Homo sapiens: one gene and its partner. The protein of the gene in region 1 purifies or fractionates together with the protein of each later gene. This does not show direct contact. Each region holds a gene or a part of one and is shown on either strand. Other genes may lie near its edges.

Region 1 (5,093 bases):
ATGTTATGTATATAGCATATATATGTGGATACATGCTATGTAGATACTTGCTATGTAGCTGCTCATATAGATACCTTAGATATGTAAATATCTAAGTATGTAAATATCAATGTTATCTATATAAGCATCCGATTTGTAATAGGATACTGATTATATAATATGTATGATATAGGTTATATGTACAATTGATTCTCACGTTTTGCAATAATTATGTTCCATAAAGTTGCTGGGAACACTGAATTTGCAAATATTAATCCATCATTCCTAGAAGAGATACAGTGTTAGGTGACTGTGTGGCTTTGGTCACAATATTTTAATCAACGGATCAATACATAACTTAATACATAATGTTTTATGTATGTTTTTGTTTAAAGACACCTTAGTATATACTGTTGATTCATTAACATTGAATTAGTGGCCAATAGCACTGTAGTTCATGCCTGAGGGAAACTTACATAGCATATGTACCTCTTCTGTCAGGCCCTCTAGGAGGTGGGAACAACGGGACAACACTTCAGGGCTATGCTTGAAGTCCATTTAAAACAGTAAACTCAGCATCGCAAAGCACAACTATGGAAACAATGTGGCGATAAATGCACTGTGAAGTTTATAGTATGGGAGCTGAGAGAGGAAGGCAGAGCTTCACTTTGTTCCACTTCAACTGGAAACAGAGCAACTCAAATTTTTCACCACTCTGCTCATGCATGCCAATGATCACAAAAGCCCAGCAGTATTAATTTTGGTGTCACAAACAAATTTTAGTGTTTAGACAAATTTTCTAATATAGAATCTGTGAATAATGAAGATCTACTGCATATTTTATGCATTAATTTACTCAACAAGGATTTATTGATTCTCTATATTATAAATGCATAAAAACCATAAATATATATCATGCATATTTAGTGGATAATGCATGAATATGGAAAAATCAATATCTGAAGATATTATCACTTATGTATATGCGAGTGTATATAAATACACTCATGAATGGAGAAACCCATACCTATGTATCTCTAAGAGAAGTTCAATTATTCCACTTTTTGTATGTGTTTTGTAGGTAAAGTGAGGAAAAAAATCAATAATTTGGTGGTCTCAAGGTAATAAGCAGCCCCTTAATAAATTTACACCACTTTTTCCACGAATATCTCTGTTTCTTCATAATTTAAAAGTTGGAAAATATTTATTTTTTACCAATTAATTCTATAATTGCAAATCTTTTTGAACGACTTGCAAGGCAGATAGTCTTCCTTCAGCTTTAGAGTTTTCTTTTTCTTTATACTAAACAAATATTCTTGAAGGCTTGAAGACTATTATCTCACCACTCAAGCCTTGTTTCTTTCAATTGATTAATTTCTACTTGTCCTGTCTTCCAGCTTGCTTTCTTTCCTATGCATATCATGTCCATTCTTGGAATCATTCAAAGATCCCTCTTACAACAAAAATAAAACTTACACTTCCTATTTGAGGGTCTTCACAGCCTAAATGAATCCAAGTTTTTAGTCCCATTTCCCAATACAACCATAAGCACTTGCAGATGTATGGAACCACTGTCCCAACAGAAAAGCTCTCTACCTTCATGTATATGTCTTCCATTCCTGGAATGTCCTTCCCTATCTCTTGGCTGTAATGCGGCTCCAAATCACACCACTTTAATGTTTCCCTATTTACCTCTAGTTGAAATAAACTCTCTCATCCTCTCATCCTTCTGTACCACTGGAGAACATACCCGAATAATCATTACTTTTTTCTGTTATTTCCCGTACTTTCCAAGACAACTATTCCACACCTCTCTCTTTTATGTTCAGATAAAATACCCATCCAGAAAAATAAGAAATGTGGGCACTTGGTTTCTCATCTCTCAGAAAGGTTAAATTGTATCAAGTAGGCCGGGAGCAGTGACTCATGCCTGTAATCCCAGCACTTTGGGAGGCCGAGGCGGGCAGATCACCTGAGGTTGGGAGTTCGAGACCAGCCTGACCAACACAGAGAAACCCCATTTCTGCCAAAAATACAAAATTAGCTGGGTGTGGTGGTACATGCCTGTAATCTCAGCTACTCTGGAAGCTCAGGCAGGAGAATCACTTGAACCCAGGAGGCTGAGGTTGTGGTGAGCTGAAATCACGCCATTGCACTCCAGCCTGGGCAACAAGAGCGAAACTCCTTCTCAAAAAAAAAAAAAAAAAAATGTATCAAGTAAGTACAAAGTACCTACAAAACTTGAATATCAATTTAGCCTTGAATAAATACCACACTTTTTACTTCATTGTGGCATTTTAAGCCTTATTTAGAAGCGTTTAATATATTTTGCTCTGAACATATTATTTCTGAGTTCCAAATTATTGACATAAATAAATGTTGAGGACACAATATGTTTATAGACAGAGCCACAGGCATTTGTATGCAGCATTGCAACTCTTCCCTGAACAGAACAGGTCAGTTCTTCACAGTTTGATTGGGCTGAAGTAGAGGGCAGAATCTTACCAGCCTCTGCTTATTTCTGTTTAGCTTTTCATATTTAAGGGGTTATAGAAAACCAGTGCAGGCCAAGTGACCCAGTTTCTAGCATGTACCTATGGAACTGAGGAGGATAAAAGGGAAAACAGCATTTCCTAACTTCTTAGATTGTTCAGAGGAGAGAATTTCTGCATCCCCACCTTACTTTCACAATAAAAATAACTGTCTTATCAGGGAAGCCACCTTCCTGAATGGGTGAAGGGGACCATTATTTATTGAGCTGTTAATTCTTTCCAAGAGCTGTGCCCAGAAGATTTTTTTCTCTTATTTGAACAGAGATAAAAAAGTTATCTAGAAAATCTCTTTCCCCTCACCCTAAATCAAACGAGTTGAATGGAGGAAAGTGAGGTGATTAAGTGACTTTGAAACATATTTTCCACCCCTCCACCCGCCCACTCCTACTTATCCAGTTAAAGTGAAATCAAAGAAATAGGGAGCCTGGTATAGTAATTCAATACAGTTTATACAAATAATTATCTTATAGTATATTTTAAGAGAGTAACTAGAAGTCCATCCTTTCAGACTTCATGTTTCATTTGTTTAGAAAGCAATAGAAATAGGACTCCAAACTTTATTTTTCACTTTATAAAGGTATGATTTACTCTTATTTTTGAGTATATAAATCTGAGGCTCTTCTATTTCTAGAAGGGATATTTACAAGGCTTTAAGGGCTCAGAACAAAAGTGTGGAGAAGACACAGAGCATAAAATCTGTAATATTTATCATAACTACCAAAAACATTTTCACTGAAATTTGTTAAAATTTCTTACATAAAAGAAATGTTTTAATTAGACAACCTCGACGGTTCTTACCTTGACTTTGAATGCTACAGCAACTGCAACAAGTCCATCCTTTTTCTGATGTTAAAGTCTCACTTTAAATGGTTAGTTGGCTTTTTATTTGTTTGTTTTTATGAGTCCAATGATGATTAACCATCTTATTAGGTCATTGTCCTAGGCAAACAGAAAAAACATACCTAGCTAATTCTAGGAGTTCACCCCAGAAGCCTATCTTTTAAACATTTTATTAATAATTTCTCAGAATGTACACATTATGTTAACATTAGAAAATAAATTATTTCTGGGAATGATTTATTTCTTATTCAATTAAGTTGGTTGCATAAGATTTTCTTCTTTAGAAATACAAATACAACACATTATCCAAAGTATTTAAAACTATTCCAAATAGAAAATATGTCAAGGCGATTTTTTAAAATGTCCCTACATGTTACATTAGCATTCAAAAAATAAAACATACCCTCTTTGCTTGTTACATGTGTATGGATCTAATATGACGTACATGGACACTGGATATCTCACATGGAATACTAAATTGCCAATTAATTACAAGACTAGTCTTCTAAATGACAAAAATCAAGACTAGTTTGTATGATATATTCCTTACATCAATGTGTAAAGGAAGAATGATCTCCTTCTATTGACTTGCTCTTTAGAGAATGGAAGACCTTCACTCAGTTGAAACTTTTCTTGAGTAAGGATGAAGTCAAATTAATTAATTCAGTAACTCAAACATATTTGACTCCCTACTATATCTCAGGCACATGGCTGTGTTTTAGAAGTGTACTATAAAAATATAAATAATAAACGGAGTCTTCTCTCACATGTATATATACACACACATGCATGAGTGTATGTATATATGTATTTATGTGTATGTGTGTATGTATATAGCAAAGAGAGAATGCATGTATGAAAACATTGTTACCCCTTATCACTGACAGGACAGTTGTTGATACAGTTGCAGCAATATGTATTTAATTTCTATATCACAGTTATTTGATAAACTAGTTTTTTTTTTTTTTTTTGAGACGGAGTCTTGCTCTGTCACCCAGGCTGGAGTGCAGCGGCACGATCTCGGCTCACTGCAAGCTCCGCCTCCCGGGTTCACGCCATTCTCCTGCCTCAGTCTCCCGAGTAGCTGGCACTACAAGCGCCCGCCACCACGCCCGGCTAATTTTTTCGTATTTTTAGTAGAGACGGGGTTTCACCATGTTAGCCAGGATGGTCTCGATCTCCTGACCTCGTGATCTGCCCACCTCGGCCTCCCAAAGTGCTAGGATTACAGGCGTGAGCCACTGCGCCCAGCCTAGATTAGTTCTATACCTGGTTAATTCATGGAAGTATTAGAATAATGAAAGGAACCGGAGTGTGGAGGGAGAGAAGGATTAGAAAATGTGGGGAACACTGAAGTGTAGACCTGGGGCAGGGAAAATTAGATATAGGCTCCCAAACACCCCTCTGTTGAGTCAAAATCTACTGGGGAGCCTTTGTCAAAAGTGCGATCCAGCCCCACACCCAAGAGATTCTGATTCACGAGTTCGGAGATTATGCTTTTTAAATAAGCACTTAGAATAATTTTTACATACTGTCAGCTTTTGAGAACCATCATAGCAGAGATACTAAACATTAATTATCAGTTTTATGGCTTTTCTTTTATTCAGAATGGGAAGACAGTTTGGATATTCTCATGCTAATGGTTTTCTCCTCACACATCCATTTCATTCAAGACACATCAATTTCATTTGGGACAAATACATGCATAGAATGAAGATAAAA
Region 2 (4,663 bases), on another chromosome or scaffold:
ATTATACTTCCAGTGGCTTAATGGATTGAATCACCACGACTTTCAGCAATGGGTTTATTTTAAAATGCAGATAACTAGGACAAATTTGGGGAAATTGACAAGCAAATCCTAAGGACAGGTTGGAGTTATAAGCATATTTAATTCGTTATATGAATCCCGATTTTCAACTAATGTCTCACAAAAAAGTCCTTTTATTACAGAAACAATGCCTATGTTCTAGTAATTTCTTTTTAATTAAAAAAAAGTGTGACTCCTTATGACAAAATATTTTCACTACTTGAGAAGATGGAAAAATCAGAAAGTTGACAGAAGCTTGATCTTTTCTATTGGGAAAGTAGGCTGAAAATAAAAAGATTGGAATATCCTTTTTTGTTTTTCTTTTTGGCACACAATGTTAAAGTTACTTGACACTAAGAAAATTCTCTTATGGTGTCTTTGTGGTACAGTTAGTATTATTCAAAGTATACTCATTTTCAGTACCATATTTTATGTATTAACTCATTAGAGATGACAATACCTTGATTATAATTATGGAAATGCCATTAGCTACTCACTGTATTCTAATATTTAGACCTGTACGGTAGCCATTAGCCACAAGTGGCCATTAAAATTAAAATTGGAGCCATATGTGGGTATTAAAATTAAAATTTGAATTCATGTGTCTATTGGCTGCCATTGGCTGCCATATTGGACAGTTCATATTTTCATTATCACAGAAAATTCTATTGGACAGCACCAATTTAGACTTTTAAATGAAAGTCTGTGTCAGTACATATTTGAATGTAATACTACATTTTTAAAGCACTTGCTGTGTGCTGGTATTAACAGATGCTGAATACCAGGGATACAAATGTTGGTCAGGGTCACACATACTCTACATAAGTAGACATTGGATACATGTTGCTGAACAAATAATTAATAGATGAGGAAAGAAAGAATGAATCTGTAGTGTTGTTTCTGTGTTTAGAGACAAAAATGACCAAATTTAAGATTGACTAGCCCAGAAAAAAGTTAGAAAATGAGTAATTACACAAAAACAGTATTACTAGGATAACTGTTTCTTAAACTGTTCCATAAATGTAATCCCTTTAGATTGTATTGGCGATGGTGGTAGGAGGCTGCTAAGATTGTCTTCTGATTAACTGAGAAAAATGAGAAGGTCTTAATCTGAACTCCCTCAACTTTCTGTTCTTCCTCACACTCACCGAACTTGCTTATATTTTATACTGGTACTTAATTCTTCCCTTCACAGTCACAAGGAAGATGCAACCCTCTTTTCCAAGATAACAATTCCACTTAAGCTTTTGATCCTTTTCTTTCATTCTGCTGTCCATACTCCATCAGTTATCATTAGTATGTTTCTTTTCTTTCTCTTTACTTTTTCTCTTAACTTGTGAACATGTTCAAGCCTCTCTGCTACTTTTTCCTGTACCTGTAACTGGCAAATTCTTTTTAATTTTCTGAAAAACAGATCTATAAAACTGTGCTGGCTGATGTATTTGGAATGTGGCTAGTTTGAGTAGAGTTATTCTTACGTATAAAATACACATTGGATTTCAAAAACAGTATTAAAAAATGTAAAACCTGGCCGGGCAAGGTGGCTCATTCCTGTAATCCCAGTACTTTGGGAGGCCGAGACAGGCAGATCACCTGAGGTCAGGAGTTCGAGACCAGCCTGGCCAACATGGTGAAACCTCATCTCTACTAAAAATCCGAAAATTTGCCTGGCGTGGTGATGGGCACCTGTAATCCCAGCTACTCAGGAGGCTGAAGCAGCAGAATCACTTGAACGTGGGAGGCAAAGGTTGCAGTAAGCCAAGATCATGCCACTGGACTCTAGCCTGGGTGACAGAGGGAGACTCTGTCTCAAAAAAGAAAAAAGAAAAAAGAAAAAAGAACTCTCATTTTTTTGTTAGTTACATGTTGAGATATTATAATATTTTACATATATAGGTAAAGTAAAATAAATTTTTGGAATTTTGTTTCTTTTTACTTTTTTTAAAGTGGTTAGAAATTTTAAAGTTACCTACGTGACTTGCATCTGTTGCTCATGTTCTATTTCTATTAGTGCTGCTGTATAACATTAAAAGTGAATTCCTGTATCCTGGTAAGAATAGTGAGATCCTGTCTCTAGGAAAGAAAAAAAAATTAGCTGGGCATTGTGGTACTGACTTGTAGTCTCAGCTGCTTGGAAGGTTAGGGTGGGAAGGTCACTTGACCCAAGTAGTTTGAGGCTGCAGTGAGCCATGATCATGCCACCACACTCTAGCCTGGGTGACAGAGTGAGACCGTCTGAAAAGAATAGTGAGCTCCTGTTTTTACAGAACACATTGTGGAAGTCTAGATATCTCACTTACTAGACTAGACTGTAAATATCTTAGGATAAGAACCATATCTTACTTGTATTTATATTCCTTACACTCAAGACAGCAGTTGGCCCATTGTAGGTATTCACCTGCCAAATGTTGGTTGAATAAATGAATGAGTATCAGATCTAATTCAGCATCAGTTTGAAAATACCTGCATTCTCTGCCTCTTTTCCAAGGAATGAATGAAGGAATAGAAAAAGGAAGCACTGGCCTAGGGTGGTATTTTTTTTGTGGATAAGTTTTAACCTCAAGAATTAATGTTTAAGAACCTAGATCTGTGAGTATGTGCTGCTTTATCTCTATTTTCAGACATATATTCTTAGATACGCAGTTTTGCATTTGGTTAGGAAGAGGATAAAGCATTAGAGGAAACTCAGGTATTCCCAGCAACACTGAAGTAGGGACCTTGCTCCAGATCCTCTAAAGAGCCTTATGATTACCATTATTGTCATTAAATGTTTTCTAGACCTGTGCTATTCAACATGGTATCCACATATGGCTGTCGAAATGTAGGCACTTGAAGTGTGTCTACTCTGAATTGAGATGTGTGTGAATGAAATATGCAGTGGATCTTGAAGACTTAGTTTGGAAAAAGGATGTAAAATATCTCATTCATTTTCTAATTGATTACATGTTGAAATTATATTGGGTTATATAAATATACATGTATTTGGTTAAATATTAAATGCTACTTGTTTATTTTTACCTTTTTTTAAATGTGGAAACTAAGAAAATTAACATATGTGGCTTAGGCCATATTTCTGTTCTACAGCATTGTTTTAGATTATGGTAACAATATATAATGCCTGGCATAGGCAGATTCAAGAAAGTTTTTGATTCTAAGGACTTTATGACTTTACCCAGGCTTTTTTTCTGTGAGTTTTCTATTTTCAGAGTGTTGGTCTGCATTATATCTAAGAGACTAGAAGCTGCCTGATAGACTAACTGCATCTGGTCCCTTGGAAATAATTTATCAAGTCAACATCGACTGCTGTGGGGTTCTAGATTTAGCCATGCTGTTTATTCTTCATTTTGTTTCTGCAGTTGTCTGAGTGCTGATCTTTCTTTCTTTCTTTTTTTTTTTTTTTTGGAGACAGTTTCGCTCTTTCGCCCAGGCGGAGTGCAGTTGCGCGATCTCAGCTCACTGCAAGTTCGCCTCCTGGGTTCCCACCATTCTCCTGCCTCAGCCTCCGGAGTAGCTGGGACTACAGGCGCCCACCACCACGCCCAGCTAATTTTTTGTATTTTTAGTAGAGATGGGGTTTCTCCGTGTTACCAGGATGGTCTCGATCTCCTGACCTCATGATCCGCCCGCCTCGGCCTCCGGAAGTGCTGGGATTACAGGCGTCAGCCACCATGCCCGGCCCGAGTGCTGATCATTCTAAGCAAGATAATATTCATAATTAGCTTAGTTTTTACTAGAAATGTGCATTTTTATTGTTTAATTTTAATTTTTTTATTCTCAAAAGGAAGTAAACGTGTATTTTTTAAAAAATATCAAAATGAAACTCAAGATTTGAGTTTATAAACATAGTTGAAAGATTTTATTCTCAGATATTCTTTATTTTGCTTTTTTTCCTGGAGTTTCTCTGTTATAAAATTTAGTATAAGAAAAACATTCTAGGCCAGGTGTGGTGGCTCAAACCTGTAACCTCGGCACTTTGGGAGACACACAGGAGGATTGCTTTGGGCCAGGAGTTTAAGGCCAGATTGGGCAACATAGTGAGACCCTGTGTCTACAAAAATTAAAAATTAGCTGGGCATGGCGGTGCCTGCCTTTAGTCCCAGCTACTTGGGAGACTGAGGCAGGAGTATTGCTTGAACACAGGAGTTCAAGGCGGCAGTGAGCTATGATTGTGCCAGTACATTCCAGCCTGGATGACAGAGTAAGACCCTGTCTCTAAAAAATAAAAATTAAAAAAAAGAAAGAAACAAAAACATTCTTGATTGGATATTTATATGGGAAATACTATGAGACTTATTTTTAAGCCAATACTTCAAGTTAGAAATTATATATATAATTTTTTTTTTGAGATAAGGCCTCACTTTGTCTCCCAGGCTGTACTGCAGTGATGTGATCACAGCTCACTGCAACCCCAAACTCCTGGGCTCAAATGATCCTCCTGCCTCAGCCTCCTGAGTAGCTAAGACTTCAGGCATTTGCCACCACACCCAGCTAATTAAAAAAAAAAAAAAATTGTAGAGGTGGGGGTCTCACTATGTTTCCCAGGCTGGTCTCAGACTCCTGGACTCAAGCGATCCTCCTGTCTCAGCCTCCCAAAGTGCTGAGATTA

What was found. The genes of interacting proteins can lie anywhere in the genome.
Region 2: the proteins of SLCO1B3 (region 1) and ATP11B purify together in Homo sapiens (affinity purification with mass spectrometry; one large-scale study listed by BioGRID and IntAct). This does not show direct contact.

Annotation. Positions count from the first base shown.
Region 1 is NC_000012.12:20,809,001-20,814,093, reverse strand, and holds the start of SLCO1B3 (solute carrier organic anion transporter family member 1B3), read right to left. Parts: upstream 3,390-5,093; 5' UTR 3,330-3,389; intron 571-3,329; 5' UTR 456-570; intron 1-455. UniProt on the Homo sapiens protein: Mediates the Na(+)-independent uptake of organic anions.
Region 2 is NC_000003.12:182,795,840-182,800,502, forward strand, and holds part of ATP11B (phospholipid-transporting ATPase IF), read left to right. Parts: intron 1-4,663. UniProt on the Homo sapiens protein: Catalytic component of a P4-ATPase flippase complex which catalyzes the hydrolysis of ATP coupled to the transport of aminophospholipids, phosphatidylserines (PS) and phosphatidylethanolamines (PE), from the outer to the inner leaflet of intracellular membranes.